Linked DNA regions of Homo sapiens: all the other regions are linked to region 2. Evidence: fine-mapped expression QTL. A gene starts in region 2. Each other region holds a variant in brackets. All regions are shown on one strand. Distances are from middle to middle.

What was found.
Region 1: its variant is fine-mapped to the expression of MYCL in whole blood (TOPMed, PIP above 0.99).
Region 3: its variant is fine-mapped to the expression of MYCL in whole blood (INTERVAL, PIP above 0.99).
Region 4: its variant is fine-mapped to the expression of MYCL in whole blood (TOPMed, PIP above 0.99).
Region 5: its variant is fine-mapped to the expression of MYCL in whole blood (TOPMed, PIP above 0.99). The same link has a PIP of 0.9 or more in blood mononuclear cells.

The regions. Positions count from the first base shown.
Region 1 is chr1:39,781,633-39,786,734 of GRCh38, forward strand. The region is part of intron 1 of BMP8B (bone morphogenetic protein 8b); the gene reads right to left. Among named protein-coding and RNA genes, the nearest start is that of BMP8B-AS1, 4.2 kb to the left of the region's middle. The variant T/C (reference allele first, on the strand shown) is at 1,965.
Region 2 is chr1:39,899,482-39,904,572 of GRCh38, forward strand. MYCL (MYCL proto-oncogene, bHLH transcription factor) reads right to left here and starts at 2,436. Exons shown (of 2, transcript NM_001033081.3): 1 at 1,458-2,436. The coding sequence starts at 1,953. RefSeq lists silencers at 1,690-1,809, 2,220-2,539, 2,800-3,009.
Region 3 is chr1:39,870,690-39,875,791 of GRCh38, forward strand. All of the region lies in intron 1 of TRIT1 (tRNA isopentenyltransferase 1), which reads right to left. Among named protein-coding and RNA genes, the nearest start is that of MYCL-AS1, 9.9 kb to the right of the region's middle. The variant G/A (reference allele first, on the strand shown) is at 2,503.
Region 4 is chr1:39,817,345-39,822,446 of GRCh38, forward strand. LINC02811 (long intergenic non-protein coding RNA 2811) reads right to left here and starts at 116. Exons shown (of 4, transcript NR_186710.1): 1 at 1-116. RefSeq lists enhancers at 1-394, 243-412. The variant T/C (reference allele first, on the strand shown) is at 3,044.
Region 5 is chr1:39,830,632-39,835,733 of GRCh38, forward strand. LOC105378667 (a long non-coding RNA gene) reads left to right here. Exons shown (of 4, transcript XR_947221.3): 3 at 1,340-1,426. Among named protein-coding and RNA genes, the nearest start is that of LINC02811, 16 kb to the left of the region's middle. The variant GAA/G (reference allele first, on the strand shown) is at 3,157.

The DNA.
Region 1 (5,102 bases), 120 kb before region 2:
TACTGCTTTTTGTAGTGAATGAAGGGAGCAAGTTTTGGATGCACCCACAACAAAGGCCTCAGACAACTGAGACCACACTGGGAGCTCTGGGGGCTGGTGGCCCTTTAGAGCTGTCTCTCTTTAAGGCAAGGGGGCTGGGCACTGGTACTGCCATAGACCAGCTGTTGGATGGTGGGTGTCCCCAGGGATGGTGCCTAACCTTGGGCAGTTCTTTAGGCCCAGTCAATCAATACCTAGAGAAGGGTAGGGCGTGGTGGCTCTCGCCTGTAATCCCAGCACTTTGGGAGGCTGAGGTGGGTGGATCACCTGAGGTCAGGAGTTCAGGATCAGCCTGACTAACATGATGAAACCCCATCTCTACTAAAAATACAAAATTAGCCGTGCGTGGTGGCGGGTGCCTGTAATCCCAGCTACTTGGGAGGGTGAGACAGAAGAATTGCTTGAACCCAAGGAGGTTGCAGTGAGCCAAGATCGCACCATTGCACTCCAGCATGGGTGACAAGAGCAAAACTCCATCTCAAAAAAAAAAAAAACAAAAAAAACCTAGAGAAGGACTCCCCTGTGAGCTGTCAGCAGCCGGCACTCCAGGCAGCTGGGTCACGAGCGACTCAATGCTGAAGAGAAGCTCTGGGAAGCCCCCCACAGCATCCACTACAAGGATGCCTAGGTGGAATGAGGATCTCACCCAGGCAGCCTGGTCAGATTCTGGAGCTATGCTTTTTACTACTCTGCTCTAGGTCCCTAAGTAAATGACTGGGGGATGGGGCATAATCCGCAGGCCCTTCCCTCATAATACAGCCACTTATTGAGCAGTGCCAGACACTTGCTTTGTTTTTGTTTTTGTTTTTTTTTGAGATGGCATTTCGCTCCTGTTGCTCAGGCTGGAGTGCAATGGCGCGATCTCGGCTCACTGCAACCTCCACCTCTTGGATTCAAGCAATTCTCCTGCCTCAGCCTCCCAAGTAGCTGGGATTACAGGCGCCTGCCACCACAGCCGGCTAATTTTTGTATTTTTAGTAGAGACGGGGTTTCACCATGTTGTCCAGGCTTGTCTTTAACTCCTGACCTCAGGTGATCCGCCCCCGCTTGGCCTCCCAAAGTGCTGGGATTACAGACGTGAGCTTCCGTGCCTGGCCAGACACTTGCTAGGTTTTTATGTGCCTTAACCTATTTAATCATTGTATTATGATACAGGCATTATTATTATTATTTAGACAGAGTCTTGCTCTGTCTCCCAGGCAACCTCCATCTCCCAGGTTCCAGCAATTCTCTCGCCTCAGCCGCCTGAGTAGTTAGGACTACAGTCCCGCGCCACCATGCCTGGCTAATTTTTTTTGCATTTTTAGTAGAGACAAGGTTTCACCATGTTGGCCAGGCTGGTCTTGAACTCCTGACCTCAAGTGATCCGCACACCACCACACCTGGCCGGATACAGGCATTATTATCCCAGTTTTAAAGATGAGGAAACTGAGATGCCGAGACTTTAAATGATCTGTTCAACAGCTCATAGCTCTTAAGCAGTAGACTCAGAATTGAAAGCCAGTGAGCCCCACTCCAGGGTCACTAACCACCACTCTGCTGCCCCACTTCCAGGGCCTACCCTCCTACAGCTGTGATCTACCTTTCATATCTGCTCCTGTGGGTCTGTGCATCCAGGACCCGGGGCCAGTCACTTACACTCTTTGAGACTCAGCTTCCTCCTCTGTGAATGAGGGCAGTCATAATCATTTACTCAGGGGTGAGAAAACACTGCGGAAATGGGTAGGACCAGTCACTAGGGATGGAAAGGGTGCACCATTCTGGTGGCCAGACAGAACTTTGGGGAAAAGGGACCCACCTTCAATTATTGCAAGGACAAATACCTTTGGGCATACAGTCACCCTAATAGTTGACTTTTAAGATGGATAAAAGATTTATTGTTAAATGAAAAACAACAAAGTTGCAAAACAGTGAGCATTAACGTA[T/C]GCAGTTAAAAAAAAGAAAGAAAAGAAAACGCTGGGCACAGTGGTTCATGCCTGTAATCCCAGCACTTTGGGAGGCTGAGGCAGGAGGATCAGATGAGGCCAGGAGTTTGAGACCAGCCTGGGCAATATAATGAGATCCCGCCTCTACAAAAGATTTGAAGCAATTAGTTGGACATGGTGGTGCACACCTGTAGTTCTAGCCATTCAGGAGGCTGAGGTGAGAACATTGCTTGAGGCCAGGAGTTTGCAGTTGCAGTGAGCTATGACCATGCCACTGCATTCCAGTCTGGGTGAAAGAGCAAGACCCTGTCTCTGAAAATAAAAACATATTTTTTAAGCAGTAGTCTCAGTTTACATCACACGTTCCCATTCAACACAGTCCATTTCAGCAGCACACACTGCATTTAACGGTGGGCCAGGCCCTGGGCTGTGTGGAGAGGCAGCTGCTATTTTGGAGAAGAGCAGAAGATGTGGAGGCAGGGGGACAATCTGCTGTGTGGCCTTAGGAAAACCACCTATCTGCTCTGAGCCTCTCTCTCCTCTCTTTCAAACACAGATGTGACGGCAATTGTGAGATACCAATGAAGGAAGAGATGCAGAGGTTCTGGGCACGTGGGCATCGCTGGGTATCATCTCACACAAGCCCACAACAGCCCCATAAGATGAGTATCTCCATTTTACAGAGGAGGAAACTGAGGCTTGGGGAGGTTGACTGGAAAGCCCAGATCACACTGAGATCAGGTGTTGGCGTCAGGATGCAAATTCCTTGTGTGTGGGTCTCAGGTCAGAAACCCCCAATCTAGCCCTGTCTGTCCTGCCATTGTTCAGCCCCTCCTGTTTCCCGATGGGGCGTTGCTGTCTAGCACACCCGACAATTACCTTTAGGGCTCATGTATGTATTATGTGTCTCTAGACTAGAAAGTCATCTCCCTGAGGGCAGGGACTTTACTTCTCTCATTGTTATATCCCCAGCAACTAGAACTCTGCCTGGTCCGTGGTAGGTGCTACAGAACTATTTGCTGAATGAATGAATGGGAAAATGAAAGAGGTCCCTGGTAAAGAACCAAAGGAAGTGGCCCTGGGGCCCACGGAGATGGTGCCACCCTTCTAGGTCACACGGCTGGCAAGGGCAGAGCAGGACCCGGGCCAGGTCCCGAATTCCCACTCAGTCCTGCTTCTCCCAAATCCAGACGGCTCTGTTCATCAACACCCCTGTCCATGGCCACCGGAGACCACAGGAGCAAATCTGTCTGGTTCAGGAAGGGATCAGGACAAAAATGAAGCTGCCTGCATTCTGATCCTGGCTGGACTTCTGCCTGCTAGGCCTGCTTATGCCTCAGTTTCTCAATCTGGAACATGGGCACCTGCCTCTCTGCTGAGATGGGTGGAGAAGGATTCAGAAGGAGTGTGCAGAGGTGGTCCTTCCTGCCATCCTTCCTCCCTCAGGAGGGGCCGGGCTGCCCTGAGGCACTGGGGCCAAGGCATGGCGGTGTTGTGAGAAGGCGCCTCTGCCACAGAGCCACAGGGTCAGGGCTGGGAGGCACCTTGCTTTTCTGATGCCATCACCGTAGAATGGACGAGAAAGCAGAGGCCCAGGGAAGGGAAGGGCCGTGGCTCAGGACATGCAGGAGTTAATGGTGGGCCCAGGCAGCACAAGAACCTGGGTCCTGCCTCCCAGCTCAGGGCTCTCCCCTCCCTGAGCACAGAGAGACCAGGGACAGAATCCAACCGCTCCATCACTGTCCTGCCCAAGAGAGCCCAGGTCTACAGGCTGATATGGATGACAGGCCAGGCAGGGCCCCGGCTCTGACCCCAGCCCTGGCCTCCCAGTGCAGGCTCTGAACATCAGGACGCAGGCTTGGCTTCCTAAAGCACCTGCTCTGCACGGAGACCTGAGCCATGGTGGGAGGCCTATGAGAGCCCCGCCCCCTGGGTCCCACAGGCTGCCATCAAGAGTTGGGCCCTACGGGCACCAGACCTGGCTATTCAGGAGTCAGATGAAGCTGATAGGAGAGGTGGAGCCGGCAGGAGCAGGTGTGGGAGCCTGCGTGTGGGCGGTGACACCACAGTGACCCTGCTATTAGATCCCGTGGTGGCCTCTGCCCACATGACTGTAATCTCAGCTACTCGGGAGGCTGAGGCAGGAGAAGGGCCACCAACCTCCAGGGGCCTCCAAACATGGAGAGCATCCTGGTATGTGTCTAATCCATGCCCCCCCACCGCCCCACCCAGCCTCAGTAATTACCAGTTAAAGCTACTCTAACTGAGAGAGTTCTACTAGTGCAGTTAGCACAGCAGAATAAAGAAGGCCTTTCTGACAGCTGGCTGCGCCCACCCACAGCCTGGGCTTCCACTAACAATGATCTGCTTGTTAATCTCGCAGCGCTGGAGGCCCCAAGTCTTCATGAAATGCACAAAGCTGGTGTGGGAAGAAGCTGGGATTTGAAATCCACAGCCGTGGATGTCACCCCGGATGTGCGGTGTGGCCCTGGGCTGGCTATTTAACCTCTCTGAGCCCATGAAACAGGGCTGGCAAAACAGTCTCACATGAGTTAAATGAGGAATTGTAAGGCTGTGAAAGTTCACATGCTACTTTTCATTCTAAAAACAGGTACAAACACTTTTTGATTGGCTTTTAGAATCCATTTCTAGGTTTTACATGTGTATAAGACATGTGGAGATGTTCCTGTCACCTCCGAACTAGGCCACAGCTGGGAGGGCCTGGGGCCAACAGTGCCCAGGTCCAGGTTCACCCTCTGAGGGGAGCAGCACAGGCTTTCTACTCCTGCCCCTCTACCAATCACACAACAACCCTGAGGACAGATCACCAGGCACCTCATTTTACAAGGAGCAACGAAGGCTGAGAGGGTGAGGAACTTTCCTAAGGTCACACAGAGGGGTAGGCCCTGCCCAATTCATAGCAATAGCCCCACCAGGCTGTGCATGCCTTGACCCAGGGGATGCCAGGGGAGGTCGGATGTGGGCTGGGTGGTGACGCATTCTGATGGGCGGCTCCCTGGGGACATTCTTGGACGACTCCATCCACAACTCTTCTTGGTCCTGAGCCCAGTGTCAGCCTGTCCTGATGACAGAGCCCCAGCCCCAGCTTCACAGATGGTCTCCTCTGTCCCACATCCC
Region 2 (5,091 bases):
GTGTGCAAATGGGGAAACTGAGGCCCAGATCAGCGAAGTCCACATATCACCTTTGTAACGTTCTGGATCTCAAACTAAAATGTCCAACTTCCAAAGCAATGCTCTTTCCACTCTACCACTCCACCAGCCGTTGTAGAGATACATCTTTATTGGTTTTTTGATCTCAAGATTCTCTTTCCAGCCATTAAACAAACATAAACTCTTGGTGTAGAAAGCAAGCTGGTTAAAAATGACCTTAACACAGTGGACCAGGAAAAAAAAGACTTTTAATTTTTGTTATCCTATTTTTTCTCTCAAGTGTAGGAAAACTTCCATACCCCATTCCCCAGTTCCCTATCAAATGGTCGTGTAAAAGTTATTCCTAAAAGCTACAGTGAGCTTTCTTGGTCCTAATTTATTTGTCACTAGCCACAGTCTACACTCTACAAAAATACCCTCTCCAGGATTTCTCACGGGTGTGGAGGTCTAAGATGCCAGAATAAGAACAATGTAGTTTAGTGGCACAGGATGCCCCAGTCTGCCCTCAGCGAGGTTGCACTTGCATCAAGGATGGGAGAGGAGGGCCTGGAGTTCTACTGCCTTGACCCCAGCATGTAGCCCACAGATTGCCACAAAGTAGGGGCCAGTGAATATTTGTTGAATGCCAGGGAGCAGCTGACGCTGGAGATCTATTGAGGGGGAGCAAGAAGGACACTTTTCCATCTCAGGACAAACAGCAAGGCAAGGTGTAGTGCTTCTAAGATAAGCTACCACAAAGACCCCAAACATCAAGGAAGAGGTGCCTGGTTGGGATGGAGCATTGGGGAAGAGGGGCTGGCTAGATGGCAGAAAGCTGGAGCTGACTTGTAGTGATTGTCTATCTCTAAGCCTCAGTTTTTCCATCTGTTAATGGGGAGTGTTCATTCTTCCCTCCCTGTCTCAGGGATGCACGAGTGGTAAGTGGTGGTGGGGAGGCACGAGAAGAGGGCATTTATTATTGGCATTTTAAAGTAAAGCCAACTGGAGACCTAGGTTTTTAAAAGGACGAAGGTTTTGGCTTTGCACAAAAGGCTCTCGGCTTCTTCTCCCCCTAGGGGAGTGTGAGTTTCCTAGGGAAAGAGGCAGCAGCAAAAAAACTTCAGGTTTGGAGTGTCTCTTAAGGTACCCCCTTCAATCCCTTACAGTCCAACCCCAGTATTGTCCTCTCTAAGCGCCAACCCTCACCTCAAATCCCTTGTCCCCTGGGGCTCCAATAATCATCAAAGGGAGGCTGGCTCCCACGCCACTTTTCCAAACTGTTTACCAACACACCCACGTGCCAGACAGACACGGTTGGGGACTACACGGGCAGCTTCAGCCAAAGAGAGGCGGAGATGGCCCAAGAGCTTGAGAAGAGCCAATGCCTGACCTCAGGCAGGGGCAGAGCTTTGGCCACCCATGGGGTGGCCCCCTCTTGGATGGCTCGGGGAGGTCCTTACCCGAGTCGCTTGGGCTCTCGGACCCGGAGCAGGCCTGGGTCTTGGGTTCGCCCAGCGGACAGGGGGCGGCGGGCGCCGGGTTGCCGGCTTCGAGGCTGGGAGTGCAGTCCGGGGCGGCGGACGCCTTGGGCGGGTTCCCCCGGGGCGCGCCAGGAGCGAGCCGGTCGCTCACAGCTCTCTCCAGCCGTTCCCGGGCCGAGAAGCCGCTCCACATGCAGTCACGGCGTATGATGGAGGCGTAGTTCCTGCCCCAGCCTTTCGAGTGGCCCCGGGATTCCGCTTCGTCTCCGGTGCACCCTCCGGGCCACGGCTCCGGGGGACCAATCCCGGGGGCCGGGTCCCCTGCGCCGGGACCCAAGCCCCAGGGCGGCGACGTGGGGGGCGATGGCACCAGCTCGAATTTCTTCCAGATGTCCTCGCTGGGCGCCGTGGAGCGGTAGAAATCCTCCCCGCAGTCATAGTCGTAGAAATAGTGCTGGTACGAGTCGTAGTCCATGTCCGCTCCCTGCGGGAGGGAAGGGGGGACGTGCTGACCGGGTGCCGGCCGGGCGAAGGAGGTGTCCCCGGGTCCCTCGGCACAGTCGGCTGCCGGGCTCTCGTTCCTCCCCAACCCCACCAGCTTGCAGCCTGCGCCCAGTCCTCGCGTCCCGGGAAGCCGGGCCCCGGGTCAGAGTGGTAGGGGAAGCCAATCGCAGCGCGCGGACCCGACTGTGGGCAGCGAGTTCAAAGCAAACTTTGCCAGCGCCGCCCGGAGCGCAGCTCCCAGGGCCCGGCGGGGCCGGGCGGGGGCGCGCCGTGCCCAGAAGGCAGCCTGCAGCCAGCCCGCACCGCGGGACCCGCGCCCGTGCCCTGGCCACCCGCAGCCTCACCTCGCTCCAGCCGCCCGCCACCTGGAGCGGACCGGCTCCCCGCCGGCTCGGGGCAGCCCGGCAGCCAGCACACACGCACATGCGCGCCGCCGAGAGCGCGGCCCGCACTCACAAGCGCGCCCCCCCCGCGCGCGCGCCCTCCCTCGCTCGCGCACGGCGGCCCGGACGCTCTCGGGATCGGCGCGGGAGCGCGAGCTGCAGGCGCATTGTTTCCTGACTGCCTTATATCTCGTCGCGCGCCCGGGACCCAGGGACTGGGGGGCGGGCCCTATGGGACAAACCCCGCCCTCTCCCTGCCTACTACGGGCAGTCGACAGGTGGGGCCGGCCCCACCTCCTGGCAGCGCTCGCCCGCTCCGTTCAATCCCCGGTAGCCCCCCAAATAAATTGCACGCTGGGGAGCGCAAACAGGAGGAGGGCTGATGCGGCCCGGCGGCCGCTTGGCGGTGCCAGCCGGCTGAGCTAAACCGTGCTCCTTGCCCACTCCGAGCTGGGGAATTAGGGCTACTCCCCGCCCCACCCTGCGCGCCTACTTTCCCCGGCGCACCCCGCTGGGTTCAGGTGCGCCCGAGCCGCCGCGAGGGGTAGGGGGAGGGAAACGCGCCACCTGGCGGCCCTCAGCCCTGAACTTGGGCTGGTCCCGGCGTCCGTCTGGTCACCCGTCGGCCCGTTTCTTGAGCTCAGTGGCCCAAGCCTGGATGGCATCGAAGCGAAGATTCCGGGATTTAGAGCCCGAAACGTAACCTTCCTGAGCTTCAGTTTCATCTGTAAAATGAAGGGATGGTAATGCTTACCTCACAGGGTTGTTGTGAGGCTTCAGGGAAATAAGAGCATCTAGGGAAGGGGTCTGGTCTAGGTGGAGAGGCAGACGGCGCTGGCTTAGCCCCCGCTTTGGGGAGGCGGTGCAGAAATGAGGAATTTTTCCCAGGGCAAAGCCAGCTGAGACCCGCCATGCTCCCTCTCATCTCACACAAAACACTGTAGGAGCTGTACAGTAGAGAATGAGGATTTGGCATCTGGAAAATACTGCAGGACCAAGTTGTTTCAAGTTTTGCCCTGCATTGCTGGCCAAGATGATAGATAACCCCTTTGTATAATCTTCTTTTTAAATTTTAAATATATTTTGTTAAGAGACAGGGTCTCACTCAGCGTCAAGGCTGGAGTGCAGTGGCTCGATCATGACTCGCTGCAGCCTCGAACTCCTGGGCTCAAATGATCCTCCCTCCTTAGCCTCCGAAAGTGCAGGGATTACAGGCACGGGTCACCGTGCTGGGTCCCCCTTTGTGTCATCTTCTACACAGATGACCTTTGGTGGAAGAGAAAAAATTAAACTATACGGCCAGTCTGAGATTTAGGCCAGAGGAGAGTAACTTGGGACAGCAGCCAATACATCTAGATTCCTCCACCTGGCATCAAGGTCTGGTGTCTGTCTACCCCAGCCTGATTGTCTGCTGTCTCTCTCTTTCCCTCCCACCCCTGTGGTCTAAGAACACCAAACTACTCACTGTTGGCAGACGGAAGTGAGAAGGGCAAGCAATTCAGTGTGGTTGGAGCATGGGACACGGATGTGTGTTGTTATATGGGTTGGGAAGGCAGGGAAAATGACAGCCTTCCGTTTTAGATACGTTGGGTCTGTGCTGCATGTGGGACATCTTGAAGGCAGAAACCTGCTCCTACTTGCTTTGTGATTTCTGCACCTAGAACAGCTTCTGGCAGACATTTGTGAACTAACTGACTTACTGAGGGACTCAGCTAACCAGATTTCACTGAGACAGCTTGTGTGCCCTGCTTTGTGCTAAACGGAAGACACAAATCAGAAGGGTTCCAGGTTTGGTTGCAGCCCCAAGGCACAGGCATTGGATTGTCCTTTAGTGACTTTTCTCTGGTCCACAGATGTCTGAGATGGTTGCTGTACTAGTCTGGGTTATTGGTTACAAATAACAAAAACCAACCTTAGGCAGGGCACAGTGGCTCACGCCTGTAATCCCAGCACTTTGGGAGGCTGAGGCGGGCAGATCACAAGGTCAGGAGATCGAGACCATCCTGGCTAACACGGTGAAACCCCATCTCTACTAAAAATACAAGAAAATTAGCCGGGTGTCGTGGTGGGCACCTGTAGTCCCAGCTACTCAGGAGGCTGAGGCAGGAGAATGGCGTGAACCCGGGAGGCGGAGCTCACAGTGAGCCGAGATTGCGCCATTGCACTCCAGCCTGGGCGACAGAGCGAGACTCTGTCTCAAAACAAAAAAACAAAACAAAACAAACAAACAAAAAACCAACCTTAGACAAATGTAAGCAGAAAATGACTTTATTGGAATAATTGGTGGTATAGACCTCAAGGGAGGCTGGAAATTTATGTTTGGAGAATGGGCCTTCTTTACCTAGACTACAGCCCCCACCCTGCAGCTCTTCCCATGGTTTCATTGTAGATGATATATGGGGGCAACCAGGAGGTGCTGCCCCTCCTCAAGAAGTAGGAAAAAGGAAATTAAGTTGTCTTCTGAGAGTTAACACTGCTTCTTCACTTTGCATACTTTTGTTTGTTTAATGTCTTCCTCGTCAGACTGTAAACTGAATGAGGGCAGACAAATGTCAGCCTTATTCATGGCTGTACCCCAGGGCTTTAGAACAAAGCCTGGCACATCATGGGTGCTGAGTATATGACTGAACACAAAACTCTAATGTTTTAGTTTTTGCGTTTTTTTTTTTTTTCCTTTAAGACAAGTCTCACTCTGTTGCCCAGGCTAGAGTGCAGTGGCGCAATCT
Region 3 (5,102 bases), 29 kb before region 2:
CACTACTGGGAGAAATACAAAATGGTACAGTCATTTTAGAAAACAGTTTGGTAGTCTCCTGTAAAGTTAAACCATAAAGTTACCAAACAGCCTAGCAATCCCACTCTTAGGTATTTACTCAAATGAAATTTCACACTAAAACCTGTACATGAATGTTTACAATAGCTTTCTTTATAATCACCAAAAACCAGAAACCCAGATGTCCTTTAATAGGTGAATAGACACCAGGCGCGGTAGCTCACGCCTGTAATCCCAGCACTTTAGGAGGCTGAGGAGGGCGGATCACCTGAGATCAGGAGTTCAAGACCAGCCTGACCAATATGGAGAAACTATGTCTCTACTAAAAATACAAAATTAGCTGGGCGTGGTCGCACATGCCTGTAATCTCAGCTATTCGGGAGGCTGAGGCAGGAGAATCATTTGAACCCGGGAGGCGGAGGTTGCAGTAAGCCAAGATTGCACCACTGCACCCCAGCCTGGGCAACAAGGGAGAAACTCCGTCTCATAAAAAAAAAAGGTGACTAGACAAACTATGGTACATCCAAACAGTGGAATACTACTCAGCAATAAAGAGCATTGGACGCATGCAACAACATGGAAGAATTTTAAACGTATTTTGCTGGCCAGGTGCAGTGGCTCACGCCTATAATCGGAGCCTGAGGCAGGTGGATTGCTTGAGCTCAGGAGTTCCAGACCAGCCTGGGCAACGTGGTGAAACCGTCTCTACAAAAAATACAAAAATGAGCCAGGTGTGGTGGCACAGGCCTATAGTCCCAGCTACTTGGGGTGCTGAGGTAGGAGGATTGCTTGAGCCCAGGAAGTTGAGGCTGCAGTGAGCCGAGATGGCGCCACTGCACCCCACCCTGGGCAACAGAATGAGACCCTGTCTCCAATCAATCAATCAATCTACCTTTTAAAAAAATGTATTTTGCTAAGTGAAAAAAGCCAAACCTCAAAGGCTACATATTGTATGATTACATTTTAAGACATTCTGGAAAAGGCAAAACAATAGGGATGGAAAACAGGTAAGTTGTTGCCAGAGATTGAAGGAGATAGAGGGGTTGACTACAAAGGGGCCACTATAAGGGATTTTTTAGGGTGATAGAACTGTTCAGTATGGTACTGTGGGGTATATATCTGACTCTATGCATCTGTCAAAACCCATAGAACTAAACATCATAAAGAGTACACTTTACTATATGTATGCAAAAAATTTTTAAAAATGTTTTTTTGGGACAGAGTCTTGCTTTGTTGTCCAGGCTAGAGTGCAGTGGCACCATCATGACTCACTGCAGCCTTGACCTCCCTGGCTCAAGCCATCCTCCTGCTTGAGCCAGGAGAAATTGGGACTACAGGTATGTGCTACCAGGCCTGACTAATTTTTTTTTTTTTTTTTTTTTTTGTAGAGATGGGCTCTCACTATGTTACCCAAGCTGATCTCAAACTTCTAGGCTCAAGCAATCTTCCCTCCTTGGCATCCCAAAGTGCTTGGATTAGAGGTGTGAACCACTGCAGCTGGCCACTGTATGCAAATTTTTTAAAATAACCAGAATATCTGGGAACCCAGGATAGACTACAGACTGTAACAAATGAAATCTAACTGCATTACAAACGTCTGATATAACCTCAGAGAGGAAAACAAAAGGAGCTGATCTAAGTAACTTCATAAAACAATGTTACTACTCGATACTGTAAGGATAAAAACAAACAAACAAACTGTAGGCAAACATTGTACTCTAGTTGGTAAATCTGTTTCTCACAGGAGTAATCACTGAAACTACAGGTTACACAAATAAGTAAATATACTATAGGGAATGAGAGCTAAATTTCTTACTCTGAGAAAGAAGTCACAAATAAGCAAGGGGGGAAGACTAGAATGAATCTTGTGGTGCTGGATTAGTCAGAGATACCAGTATAAACCCATGCTTATTTTAATATACATACAGATAGAGAAATAAATATAAATGTGTGTATATATAGATTAATATACATACATACATTTCCTAGCTCTTTCCACTGAAAGGGACTAGAAGCATCTTGTAATACCAGACAGGAAGTACTAAACACACACACACACACACACACACACACAGAGAGAGAGAGAAAGAGAGAGAAAGGAAGGAAGGGAGGGAGGGAGGGAGGGAAGAAGGGAAGAAGTGAGGGAGGGGAAGGAAAAGGAAGGAAAAGGAAGAAAGGAAGAAAACAAAAAGAAAGAAAGAAAAGAAAGACTCTGATGAATGCTAAAATCAGAGGGTGAAACTTTAAGGAGAAATAGGACATCTGCATAGCCTGAGGGTATCTCCCCTAAAATATTTATTAATTACTGTGGTGCTTTTAACATATGTCCGCAAATTATTTGATAAGCTTTCATCCTGGAAATGAAGCTTAATTCTCCTTCTATTCAGTGTGGGCCAGACTTGGCAAATGATTTCCAACAAATAAGACTAGGTACTGTCATTTTATGGAAATGGAAAAGAAAAATAACACAAAAAGAGAAAAATC[G/A]TGACTTTTTCAGTGGAGAAACGTGTATACAATCTCAACCAAATGATCAAAGTTACCATCACCAGTAATAAGCCATGCTAATACTATGTTGATATCATACTTTGATATGATCCAATGAGAAGGGTACTTCACTTCTGTGGTATACTTTCCCAAAATCCATAATGCCAAGTCTAATCATGAGAAACCAAAACCCAAATGGAGAGACATCTACAAAAGAGCTGACCAGTACCCTTCAAAAGTATCAAGGTCGTAAAAGACAAGGAAAGACTGAAAACTGTCAAAGATTGGAGGACACTAAAGATACATGATGACTAACTGCAGTATAGTATCCTAAATTGAATCCTGAAATGGAAAAGGGACATAAGTGAAAAAACTGGTGAAATCCAAGACTATAATTTAGTTAATAGTATTGTACCTATATCAATTTCTTAGTTTTAATAAATGTACCATGATGATGTAAGATATTAATATTAGGACAAGGTAGATGAAGGGTATACAGGAACTCTTGGTACTATCTTTGAAACTCTTGTGTAAATCTACAACTATTTCGGGCCAGGCACAGTGTCTCACACCTGTAATCCCAGCACTTTGGGAGGCAGAGACGGATGGATCACCTGAGGTCGGGAGTTCGAGACCAGCCTGACCCACATGGAGAAACCCCATCTCTACTAAAAATACAAAATTAGCTGGTTATGGTGGCGTATGCCTGTAGTCCCAGGAGGCTGGGGCAGGAGAATTGCTTGAACCCGGGGGATGGAGGCTGCAGTGAGCCGAGATCACACCATTGCACTCCAGCCTGGGCAACAAGAGCGAAACTCTGTCTCAAAAAAATAAAAATAAAAATAAAAATCTACAACTATTTCAAAATCAAAATTAAACCTGTAATCTCAGCTACTTGGAAGGTGAAGTGGGACGACTGCTTGAGCCCAGGAGTTTGAAACCAGCCTGGGTAACACAGTAAGACCGTGTCTCAATCAATCAATCAATAAAAAATTATAAAAACAATAATATAGGACAGTTTCTTAACTTTAGTACAATTAATATTTGGGGCCAAATAATTCTGTTATGGGAAGTTGTCCTGTGCCTACTAGAATGTTAGCAATGTCTCTGGCCTCTACCCATTAGATGCCAGGAACCCACCTCCCCAGTTATTAGAACCAAAAATGTCTCCAGGGATTGCCAAACGTCCCCTAGGAGGCCAAATCACCCCAAGTTGAGACTACTGATATAGCTATATACATTAACATATAAAGATATCCATAACATAGTGTTAAAAGAAAATAGAATAGTATCTAACCTCTGAGTCAATTTATGTAATAACATATACACACATGACACATGTGCTTAAATATATATACAAATGTCTGGAAGGATGTGAACCAAAATCATTACTCCAGGATGCTAAGACTATGGTTAAATTGTCTCTGTACTTTTCAGTATTATTGGATTTTTTTAATAAGCATGTCTCATTTTTCTTTTCTTTTTTTTTTTGAGATGGAGTTTCGCTCTTGTTGCCCAGGCTGGAGTGCAATGGCGTGATCTCGGCTCACTGCAACCTCCGCCTCCTGGGTTCAAGTGATTCTCCTGCCTTAGTCTCCTGAGTAGCTGAGATTACAGGCATGCACCACCATGCTTGACTAATTTTTTTGTATTTTTAGTGGAGATAGGGTTTCTCCATGTTGGTCAGGCTGGTCTCGAGCTCCTGACCTCAGGTGATCTGCCCGCCTCAGCCTCCCAAAGTGCTGGAATTATAGGCGTGAGCCACTGTGCCCGGCCCCCGCATGTCTCATTTTTCTGAACACAAAAATGCTTTGTTCTCATTTTTTTCATAGTGCTTCCAATTCAATAACCAAAATCCTGTTGGTTCTGTTTACAAAATATCAAAATGGTTACCTATTCTCTCCAGCCAAAGCCCAACTCCAGCCTCTCTCACCCAGACTAATGTAACAGAATCCTAAACTGTTTTTCCTTCTCTAACCCACTCTCCACCCAGTTACTTCATAAAATAGATTTACAGGCCAGGTGCAGTGGCTCACGCCTGTAATTCCAACCCTTTGGGAGCCCGAGGTGGGCAGATCACGAGGTCAGGAGTTCGAGACCAGCCTGACCAACATGGTGAAACCCTGTCTCTACCAAAAATACAAAAATTAGCCAGGCGTGGTGGCATGCGTCTGTAATCCCAGCTACTCAGGAGGCTAAGGCAGGAGACTTGCTTGAACCCGGGAGGTGGAGGTTGCAGTGAGCTGAGATTGCGCCACTGCACTCCAGCCTGGGTGACAGAGCGAGACTCTGTCTTGAAAAAAAAAAATAGACTTACTACCACTTCCCTCTTTAAAACCTCAAACCTCATGGCATGACTTTTGAGGGCCTCAAAAATTTGTTCCCAGGGTCTATATTTTTAGTTTTACCTCCTACCACTGTCCCTCAAGTACCCTCTATGCCAGATAGTTGCTGGTCATTCCTTGAAAACATACCATGCATTTTCTTAACTTTGCCCATACTGTTCTTTTGTCAGTAATATTATTCTTCCCACTTTTCTGCTTGATAAAATGTACACAGTGGTACAGAGGAAAAGAATGGGATGGAGGATGAATGAATAA
Region 4 (5,102 bases), 82 kb before region 2:
CACAGAAAGGATACGGCTGACGCTTCGTGAGCGATGCTGGTTGTCACCAAGTCACTGGTGAAACTGGGAGAGCGCCCCTGGTGAGACGGTGTGAGGATTCATGCAAAGCACGTGACAGAGGGAGTTTCAGGAAGTGAAGCTGTCCTGTGTTGCTGCTGTTTTATTAGTAACAGCAAGCTGCCCAGGCCCACACGAGGCAGGTGTGTCTCATGAGTGTTCTACGGGAGAGGAAGTGAGGCTTAGAGGCCCAAGCCAGGAGTGGAGGAGCTGCGGCTACGGGCTACGGTGCCCATGCCCACACCTGCCTCAGGAGCGCCCTCTTCCTTTGGATGATTCTTTTTTATAGACAGGGTCTTGCTCTGTCGCCCAAGCTGGAGTGCGGTGGTGCAATCATGGCTCCCTGCAGACTTGACCTCTTGGGCTCAGCTTCCCAAGTATCTGGACTACAAGCATGCACCACCACACCTGGCTGATTTTTAATTTTTTTGTAGAGATAGGGTCTTGCTATGTTGCCCAGGCTGGTCTTGAACTCCTGGACTCAAGTCCTCCTGCCTTGGCCTCCCAAAGTGCTGGGATTACAGGCGTGAGCCACCATGCCCACCCAGCCTGGATGATTCTTTTAGTCCGTCATTCATCCCATGAGCATTTGTGCCACATGTGCTCTGAGCCTGGTTCTGTGGTGGGCACTGGTGCCACCCTGGGCCCTGAGGTGCATGAGGGGGCGGAACAAATGGAAATTGAGGCAGGCTAGGCCTAGAGCCTGTGGGCTTCCTGGGACTGGGCACTGAGCAGTGAGCTCGGGAGACAGAAGGCTGAGCCCAAGGCTGTGGGCTTGTGCCACCTCTGCCTAACCAGGGTTTGTTTACCTTCCACCCAGAATCACATAATGGAGGTCCGTTCCTCCCCTGCACAGCATCCTGCCCTCAGGATAGCCTCAGGGCTACCCACACAGATGGGAGCTGCCTCATCTGGGGCCACTCCAGGGCCGGGGGTTCTGCTGGGAAGAAGGCTCCTACATCCTTGCCCCGCTGTCTGAAGCTGGTTTGGGCCAGTGAAGAGGAGCCTTCCCTGGCCGAACTCCTTTTGTCAGCCCAGGGAATATCCAGGTCAGGGGGTGGGGTTTGGCCTGGGGATCAGGGGCCCAGGGTCATGTTTGGGATTATCCTAACAGGCATTGCACCTGCATAAGACAGTGCAGGATGGGTCTGCACAAGACCATATAGAGGAGAGGTGAGCGGGGTTGAAGGCCAGTCCACACCCTGCTCCACTTGGCACTGCTGGGGGCTGGAGCAGGGCTGTATCAGCCTAGAGGAAACAGGTTCTTATTTCTGAGTCATCATGAGCACCACATAGGTTGGCAGTGCCCTGATGGCAACAGTCCCTAAAGCGCAGGGGTGGAGCAAGGCTTGATGTTGGCCTGGAGCTCCAGGGCCAGTTGCTATTTGAATGAAAGAGTTGCAGCAAGCTGGTCTTTTCCCCAAACCCATGGCCCTCAGGTGTTGCTCAGGAGAAGGAGGGATGGAATTGGCCATGGGCTACCACCTCAGGAGGCTGGACCTCTCAGAGGAGCTTCTAGTGCTTTGCTTAAGATATGTCCGCCAAGACCCATGCCAACACTCTTGGAGTCTCAGGGGCTCCTGACTTTTCATTCTCCCAGGCCCCAGTCCAGACTGACTCTCCCAAACGCCCATTGTGGATTATGTCCAAATTCCTTTGCAGGGCCATTTCTTGTTCACCACAGACACACCTGTGTCCAGAGTGCACATAAGACAAGCCACTGCTCTGAGGGGGAGCTCCTGGCTGGGGGGATTCCAGGACCTAGATCTGTGAAGCCACCTGCCTCGGACATCATGGAGGAGGATGGCAGTGTTCGGAGGCTCAGGAAGCGCAGCACCGTGCCCGGGTGGCAGTTGGCCTGGAGTCTATGCAATGTGGGGTGAACCAGGACCACTCTCTGGGACGTCCACCCAGGAGAGCCAGGAAGGTGTTCCAGGCTGGGCCCCAAGGCCTCTCTGTAGCCTCCTGAGGCCATGTAAGGACCCAACCTGTCCTGGCCCAGAAGTCAGATTCCTCAGCCAAGGAGTTGCAGGGACAAGGAGAGGTGGCCAGTGTGGTGGGAGGACGCCTTTGTTGGTGGGAGGACGCCTTTGTTGGTGGGAGGACGCCTTTGTTGGTGGGAAGACGCCTTTGTTGGTGGGAGGATGCCTTTGTTGGTGGGAGGACGCCTTTGTTGGTGGGAGGATGCCTTTGTTGTAGGTATTTTCTCAACGGTGGGGCTGGGCTGCCTGCCAGGTGCCAGGGCGCGGCTCTGGCCTCCCGCTGCACAACCCACTTTGCCGCCAAGCCCTGTACCCGGCCCAGCAGCTCCTTCCCGCGCTTCCGCTGCCAGTCCCGGGAAAGTGAGAGGCAGGATGTGTTGGGCGGGCTGAGCAGGCTGGTTCCCAGCCCACCTGGCCTCATGCTTCTGGCAAGGATCCTGAGCCTAGACAGGAGAAGGGACTCACTCAGGGCCCTCTTGGTGCTTGGCATTTAGAACTGCATTCTTCCAATTAAAAAATATGTACAAACTTTTGCTCAATAAAATGTGATAAAACTGCAATGCTGAATATGAGCTCATACACTTATTAGCTGTATGTCCACGAACAAGTTACTACTTATCTTCTCTTTAGCTCCATCTCTTTATTGAAAAGCGAGGACAAAAGAAGAAGAAAATGTAAAAATGGGGATGATAGTTGTCCTACCTCATGGGACTATTACGAGGATTTAATGGGTCGTTACATGTAAAGCTCTCAGAACAGTCTTGCACGTGGTGAGGGCTATGGAAATGTCTGCTGTGATCTTGAGCGTGATGGTGACCATCAGTGGGAACAATGCTAACCAAGAATCAGTGGCACAGAACAGAAATTCACTCAGGCAAGCTCCAGCTGAGAGCTTTTAATCACGTCTTCAGAGATGGCACATGGAACCCGAGGGTAGGGGCAGCCAGACCTCAAGAGGCCTGAGAACCAGGATCTGAAGAATGAGAAGCCCGGAAGCTCCTCTC[T/C]GTCTCTGGGCCTCACTGTCTCCTATCCACCCTCTTTCTGCACATCTGCTTCACTCTTATACCTCTGAGCAGCACGACTTCCCCCAGTTCTCTCATGGCCAAACATGGCTGGCTCTCAGGTCTCAGGTCAAGTAACCAGAGGAAGCACACTGGCTTCTCTGAATCCCAACAGCAAGATTGTGGGACAGGGAACCCATTGCCCAATTTGGGTCATGCACCCACAGCCCATGGCTGAGGGGCCGCCAGGGACCAGTCCCGTGGTGCCGAGGGAGAGCCTATAGGCTGGGCAGGCATCCCCAGGGGCATCTACTCCAATGGTGCTCTGGGCAGCAAAGAAACCAGTGTGCTAGTCCTGGTGTCACTGCAGGAGATCCCCAGTGTCGCTGGGCCCTTTTCCTCTTCTGTTCACTCTGTGATTGCTATAGTCCCTTGTCACAGCACTCAGGGTGTCTTAAAATTGTTTATGTGTCTGTTTTCCTCACTAGACTGTGATTTTCATTCATTCTCTCAATACAGTAATCACCAAGTACCAGCCATGTGCTCAGGATACAGAGATGAATCCAACTCAGTGCTTGCTGCCTCCGCAGAGGCTCAGTCTGGCTTGGCATGTGGTCATGTGAAACGGATCGTCTCCATGTCTGGTTTCTCCCAAACTCAGGTGCTAGAGACTTTGTTTCCCACAGCATTGACAGTGTCAAGATCCCACTCTTCATGAAGTTTACAAGACTCCTGAGCTGTTATGAAAAGTGAGCGTCCAGGCCAGGCGCAGTGGCTCATGCCTGTAATCCCAGCACTTTGGGATGCTGAGGCGGGTGAGGTCAGGAGTTCAAGGACCTCACCTGAGGTCAGGAGTTCAAGACCAGCCTGGTCAACATAGAGAAACCCTGTCTCTACTAAAAATACAAAAAATAGCTGGGCATAGTGGCGTGCACCTGTAATCCCAGCTACTTGGATGCTGAGGCAGGAGAATCCTTGAACCTGGGAGGTGGAGATTGCAGTGAGCCAAGATGGTGCCATCACACTCCAGCCTGGTTGACAGAACGAGACTCTGTCTCAAAAAAAGAAAAGGAAAGAAAAAGAAGGGAAGGGGAGGGGAGGGGAGGGGGAAGAAAGAAAAGAGAAGAGAAGAAAGGAAAAGAAAAGAAAAGAAAAGAAAAGAAAAAGTGAGTGTCCACAGGAAATGGTTCTGAAGGGGCCAGGCATGGGCGGGCATCACCTCCGCTGGGTGATTGAAGGGCAACAGTGTGCAGCTGACAAAAGAAAAACTTGGCTGGTGCCTATAATCCCAACGCTTTGGGAGGCCAAGGCAGGCGGATCATCTGAGGCCAGGAGTTTGAGACCAGCCTGGCCAACATGGTGAAATCCCATCTCTACTTAAAAAAAAAAAAAGAAAAAAAAATTTAGCTGGGCGAGGTGGTGCGTGCCTGTAATCCCAGCTGCTTGGGAGACTGAGGCAGAAGAATCACTTGAACCTGGGAGGCAGAGGTTGCAGTGAGCTGAGATCGTGCCACTGCACTCCAGCCTGGGTGACAGAGCAAGACTCGGGCTCAAAAAAAAAAAAAAAAAGAAAAAGAAAAAGAAAAATTTCCCAGCAAGTGAGGAGCAGGACGGTGACTGTGGCTCCTCAGCTCGGGTGACGGCTGTGCTAACTGGAGGCCACGGATGCTTACTGGTATTGCTCGGCTGCTGTAACGCACCGGCCCTGCTGCTGGGCATCTCTTGAGGCTGACTTTGCTCCTCTCCACATCTTTGCTTCCATTTCAGGCCACTCTGATCTCTTCCAAAATCAACTCGTGTCCCTATTCCAAGCATGAGCTATCCCTAACGAGCCTCCCTGTGAGCAGGATGGGGCAGACACGCCTCTAGGCTCCTTCCAGCTCACTTCTAAGGCATTAACTTTACACTCTGCCTCCTTCAGGGTCATTCTTTGGGTTCTCAAAATCCTTTCTCTCCATAAAGCTGAGCACTTGGCTTTCAAAATTATTCATGCGGGTGACCACATTGAGGTCTAGTTTGGAAGTTGAAAAACTAAATGTTGTTTTTTCCCCTTCCTTTGTGC
Region 5 (5,102 bases), 69 kb before region 2:
CTGTTGCCCAAGCTGGAGTGCAGTGGCTGATTTTGGCTCACTGCAACCTCTGCCTCCTGGGCTCAAGCAATCCCCCTGCCTCAGCCTCGTGAGTTGCTGGGACTACAGGCACATGCCACCATGCCTGGTCTCGAACTCCTGACCTCAAACGATCCCCTCACCTCAGCCTCCCAAAGTGCTGGGATTACAGGCGTGAGCCTTGGTGCCAGGCCTCATGTTTTTTCAGATGCCATTTCCTCAGGAAAGCCTTCCCAGACTCTTCTAGAACGAGTCAGGTAAAATCTTGTGTATTCCCTAAACGACTCTATTACAGCATTTATCATATTCACTGGGATAGCATGCAAGACTCCAGCTCTCTGAAGACAGGAACTGTCTTGTTCACTGATATATCTCTAGCACCTAGAATAGTGAATGATAAGCACTCATTTAAGTCTGTTGAATTAATAGGTATTCCTAATTATAAAGCTGTTTGACTCCTAAAGTCCTCTACTTGCCTTCATATTAGTCCAGAACTGGTTCAACTTACCACGTACCTGATGAAAAATACAACTACTTTTTAATTCAAAATAACTAGAAGTGGCATAATCCAGTAAAAAGAACACTACTGCTAAACCAGGAGACCAGGGTTCCAGGCATAGCTCTGCTACTTACTAACTCTTTGTGTTGCTGTTGGTGACTTACTTAACCTCTCTGGGACTCACTTTCTCTGTCTGCTCAATTATGTGGCTAATCTGGATCAGAGATTTTCAAAGTGTGTCCCACAGCCGGGGGGCGGGGAAGGGGGTGGGCACTAAATCAGAGGGACCAGAAGACTGTGCACCCTACCCAGACCTGAAGCCAGTCTAGTTCAGTATATATTATATATTGCAATTCATGTATGACTTGGGAGAAGGAAAAAAAAAAAAGGATCCACAGCTAAAAACAAGTTTGAAAACAACTGAAACATGATCACCGAATTCTCTGCACCCTTTACATGCTGATATTTAAAACAACAGAAAGCCACGAATGTAGTAAGAAGGTAGTTTTGCCGGGCACGGTGGCTCACGCCTATAATCCCAGCATTTTGGGAGGCCAAGACGGGTGGATCACCTGAGATTTCAGGAGTTCGAAACCAGCCTGGCCAACATGGCGAAACCCCATCTCTACTAAAAGTACAAAAATTAGCCGGAGGTTGCAGTGAACCGAGATCGCGCCATTGCACTCCAGCCTGGGCGACAGAGAGAGTCCATCTCAAAAAAAAAAAAAAAAAAAAAAAAAGAAGGTAGTTTCTAAAAAGCACTTGAAGAGTCTGACTGCCAAAGTTCAGAGAGAGTAAGCTGACACTTTTGTCTGCCATCAGGAACCCACCAGTCTCCAAGCAACTTGACTTCATTATGCAGATCCAGCAAGACACAGAGACATTTTTGAATCCACAAATAACTTCTATGTAAGTCTTTATACCTTGGAGCCGGACACAGTGGCTCACACCTATAATCCCAGCACTTTGGGAGGTCAAGACGGGAGCATCGCTTGAGACCAGGAGGTCAAGACCAGCCTGGGCAACATGGCAAAACCTCATTTCTACAAAAAAACAAAATTACCTGGGCATGGTGGCAGGTGCCTGTGGTCCCAACCTCCCTAGGCTAAGATGGGAGGATCACCTGCGCCCAGGAGTGCCACTGCACTCCAACCTGGGTGACAGAGTGAGACCCTGTCTCAAAAATATAAAAAGTCTTTATACCTCGATCCCCTTCATATTAACAAGGAGGCTCAGGCAGAAGGCACAGACTTAAATGGTTTTCCTTTATGCCTTGCTTTCAGGTCATTTGTCACTTCACTTCTGGTGACTCAGAGTCTGACCCCAGCCTCACACTTGATAATGCACCATGCACGGTTCTTGCAGAGATAGGGCCTTCCTTTTGCATGGGAAGTACTCGGTAGTTACGGTGCGCTAGTCAGGGTTGTAGTCAGAGGACCTGGAGTTCTCTCATCTGCCACCTACTCTGTGTCACTGCTATGGACACCTATTATTTGGTCTACTCAGCACCAATCCCATCCCTGCCCTCTTCCTGAAAACTCTCGTGTTCCCTGGCTTCATTCTATCATACTGTTCTACAGGGAGGGCCATGTTCTTAGATGGTACGCTGTCCTTCTTAATCCAAGGGTAGACAACAGAATTCAGCTCTACTCAATTGCGTCTTTTCCTGGGGCTTTTAAACTTGGGATTTGGTCCACTTCTTTTCAGTGAAGAAAAGCTGTAAGATGTGAGGTGTGGCAGCTTCCAATGACCACGACCACGTGAAGAAAGCTGGTTTGCATGGAGAGAAACGTGAAATCGGCACGCTGAGAAGAGATGAGGCAGTGCTGGTAGTGTCTGAGTCCTTGGGAGCAATTGTTCCTGAGGCCCAGCTGCACCTTGCCTGTCCTTTCAGGAGAAGCTCAGTTGTTTGACTTTTAGATTCCATAAGCCAACAAATCGTCTTTTATACCTAAATTAGTTTAAACTGGCTTTCAATCCCTTACAACTGAACTAACACCAACCCTGTGTTAAGTCACTGAAATACTGTGAGTCTGTTTCTTCATTTGTAGAAACGACCTCAAATGTTTTTGGCAAATACTAACAAGATATGTAGTTTTGTTAAAACCATACTGGGCCATAAATTTCTAAGGAATGACTACTACAGATATCTCATGATGAAGATAATGGCAAGTACCACCCAGAAGGCATATGGACTTAGTTAAGCTCAGCCCTGCTGCTAGAAAACCAAGTGTCTTACTGACTAGCAGACAGCAACTCCACAGTGGACACAAATGCTTGTCTGCCCAGGTGCCCTCCCCTCCTACCAACCCGCTCACCCTTCTCCTCTGGGAATCACTCCACCTCCACTCCATCCTTTCCATGGGAACTGTCCTGTCCTTTCAGGAATCCATCTCCAGACTGGCTGATGGGCCTCAGGATAAGCACTAGACTCAAGCTGGGCTAAAAGATCCCTTTCCTGGGACTTTTACTTTTAAAAAATGGTGGTAAAATTCACTTTTAAGCTTATAGTTCAGTAATGTTAAGTGTATTACAGTATGAAAGTGTATTAAGTAGTTTTAAGCGTATAGTTCAGTGGTGTTAAGCATATTCACATTGTTGTGCAACTAATTTCCAGAACTTTTGCATCTTACAAAACT[GAA/G]ACTCTATCCCATTAAACTTCTCCATTTACCCTTCCCTCCACCCCCAGCCAACACCATACTGTTTCTATGAATTTGACTATTCTAGATACCTCATGTAAGTGGAACTATACCATATTTGTCTTTTGGTGACTGGCTTTTTTTTTTTTTTTTTTTGCTTTGCTGCCCACGCTGGAGTGCAGTGGCGCCAAGGCTCACTGCAGCCTTGCCCTCCCGGGCTCAAGCATCATCTCACCTCTCATCCCCGAGTGCTGGGTAATAATTCTTTTATTTTTGTAGAGGTGGGTCTCATTCTGTTGCCCAGGCTGGTCTCAAAACTCCAGGCTCAAGCAATCCTCCCACCTCAGCCTCCCAATGTGGCATGAGCCACTGCGCCCGGCCTGACTGGCTTTCATGCAGCATAATGTCCTCAAAGTTGTAGCATGCGTCAGAACTTCCTTCCTTGCTAAGGGTGAATATTCCATCATATGTACTTACATTTTGTTTATCCACTCACTCTTATTTATTTTTGAGATAGGGTCTGCCTCATTCTGTCACCCAGGATCTGGAGTGCGGTGACACAATCACAGCTCACTGCAGCCTTGACCTCTTGGGCTTAAGTGATCCTCCCACCTCAGCCTCTTAAGTAGTTGGGACTACAGGCACACACCATCACACCCAGCTAATCTGTTTATTTTTTGTAGAGATGGGCTCTTACTGTGTTGCCCAGGCTGGTCTTGAACTCCTGGGCTCAAGCGATCCTCCTGCCTTGGCCTCCCAAAGTGCTGGGATAACAGGCACAAGCCACCATGTGCAGCCCTTAGATTCACTTTTTTTTTTTTTTTTTTTTTTGAGATGTAGTCTCACTCTGTCGCCCAGGCTGGAGCACAGTGGCGTGATCTCGGTTCATTGCAACCTCCACCTCCTGGGTTCGAGTGATTCTCCTGCCTCAGCCTCCCAAGTAGCTGGGATTACAGGCCTGCGCCACACCCAGCTGATTTTTGTATTTCTAGTAGAGACAGGGTTTCACTATGTTGGCCAGACTGGTCTCGAACTCCTGACCCCAGGTGATCCACCCGCCTCAGCCTCCCAAAGTGCTGGGATTACAGGTGTGCACCACCACACCCGGCCTAGATTCACTCTTGATGGACAACTGGGCTGCTTCTACCCCTTGGCTATTGTAAAGAACGCTGCTATGCAGAACAAGGGTGTATCTCCCTGAGACCCTGCTTTCAGGTCTTTGGGATATATCCCCAGAGGGGGGACTGCTGGATCATATGGCGGTTCCCTTTTTAATTTTCTGAGGAACTGCCATACTATTTTCCACAGCAGCTGTACTATTTTACATTCTCACCAACAGTGCAAAGGGTTCCAATTTTTTCACATTCTTGCCAACACTTGTTATCTTCTGGGTTAATTTGTTTTGTTTTGTTTTATAGCAGCCATTCTAATGGGTACGGGGTGTCCTAGGGCTTTTGAACTTAGAACCAGAGAAAACATCCGCACAATCTGTCCCCAGTTGTCAAGGCCATAAGAGGTGAAACACAGGTGCTACTAGCAGCCCTGTCTCCTGCCATGTAGAGAAAGCCTGTTTACAGTGAGAGAGGAGTGAGCTGATTTGCAGAGAAAAGAGAAAGTCTCTAAAGCCTCAGATTGGGTAGTACAAGTTGTGGCTGGAGCCTAGATACTTTCCTGCCCTTGAATTTGATGAGACACCTCATTAACCCAATCATAAATCCACCTTTTTACTTAAGTTAGAGTTGTTTCATTTGCAACCATGATTCTTGCCATAAACATCTTTGTACAAGAGTTAGTTCTTCAGTCTTTTCTTTTTTTTTTTTTTAACCTTTTCTTCCTTTGATTCTTTCTTAGAAGTAGATGGGATATAAATAATTTGTACATTCAAAAACCCTAAATTTGTACATTCAAAAACCCTAAAGAAATGCCCTTGCAGAAGTAGAGGGTTG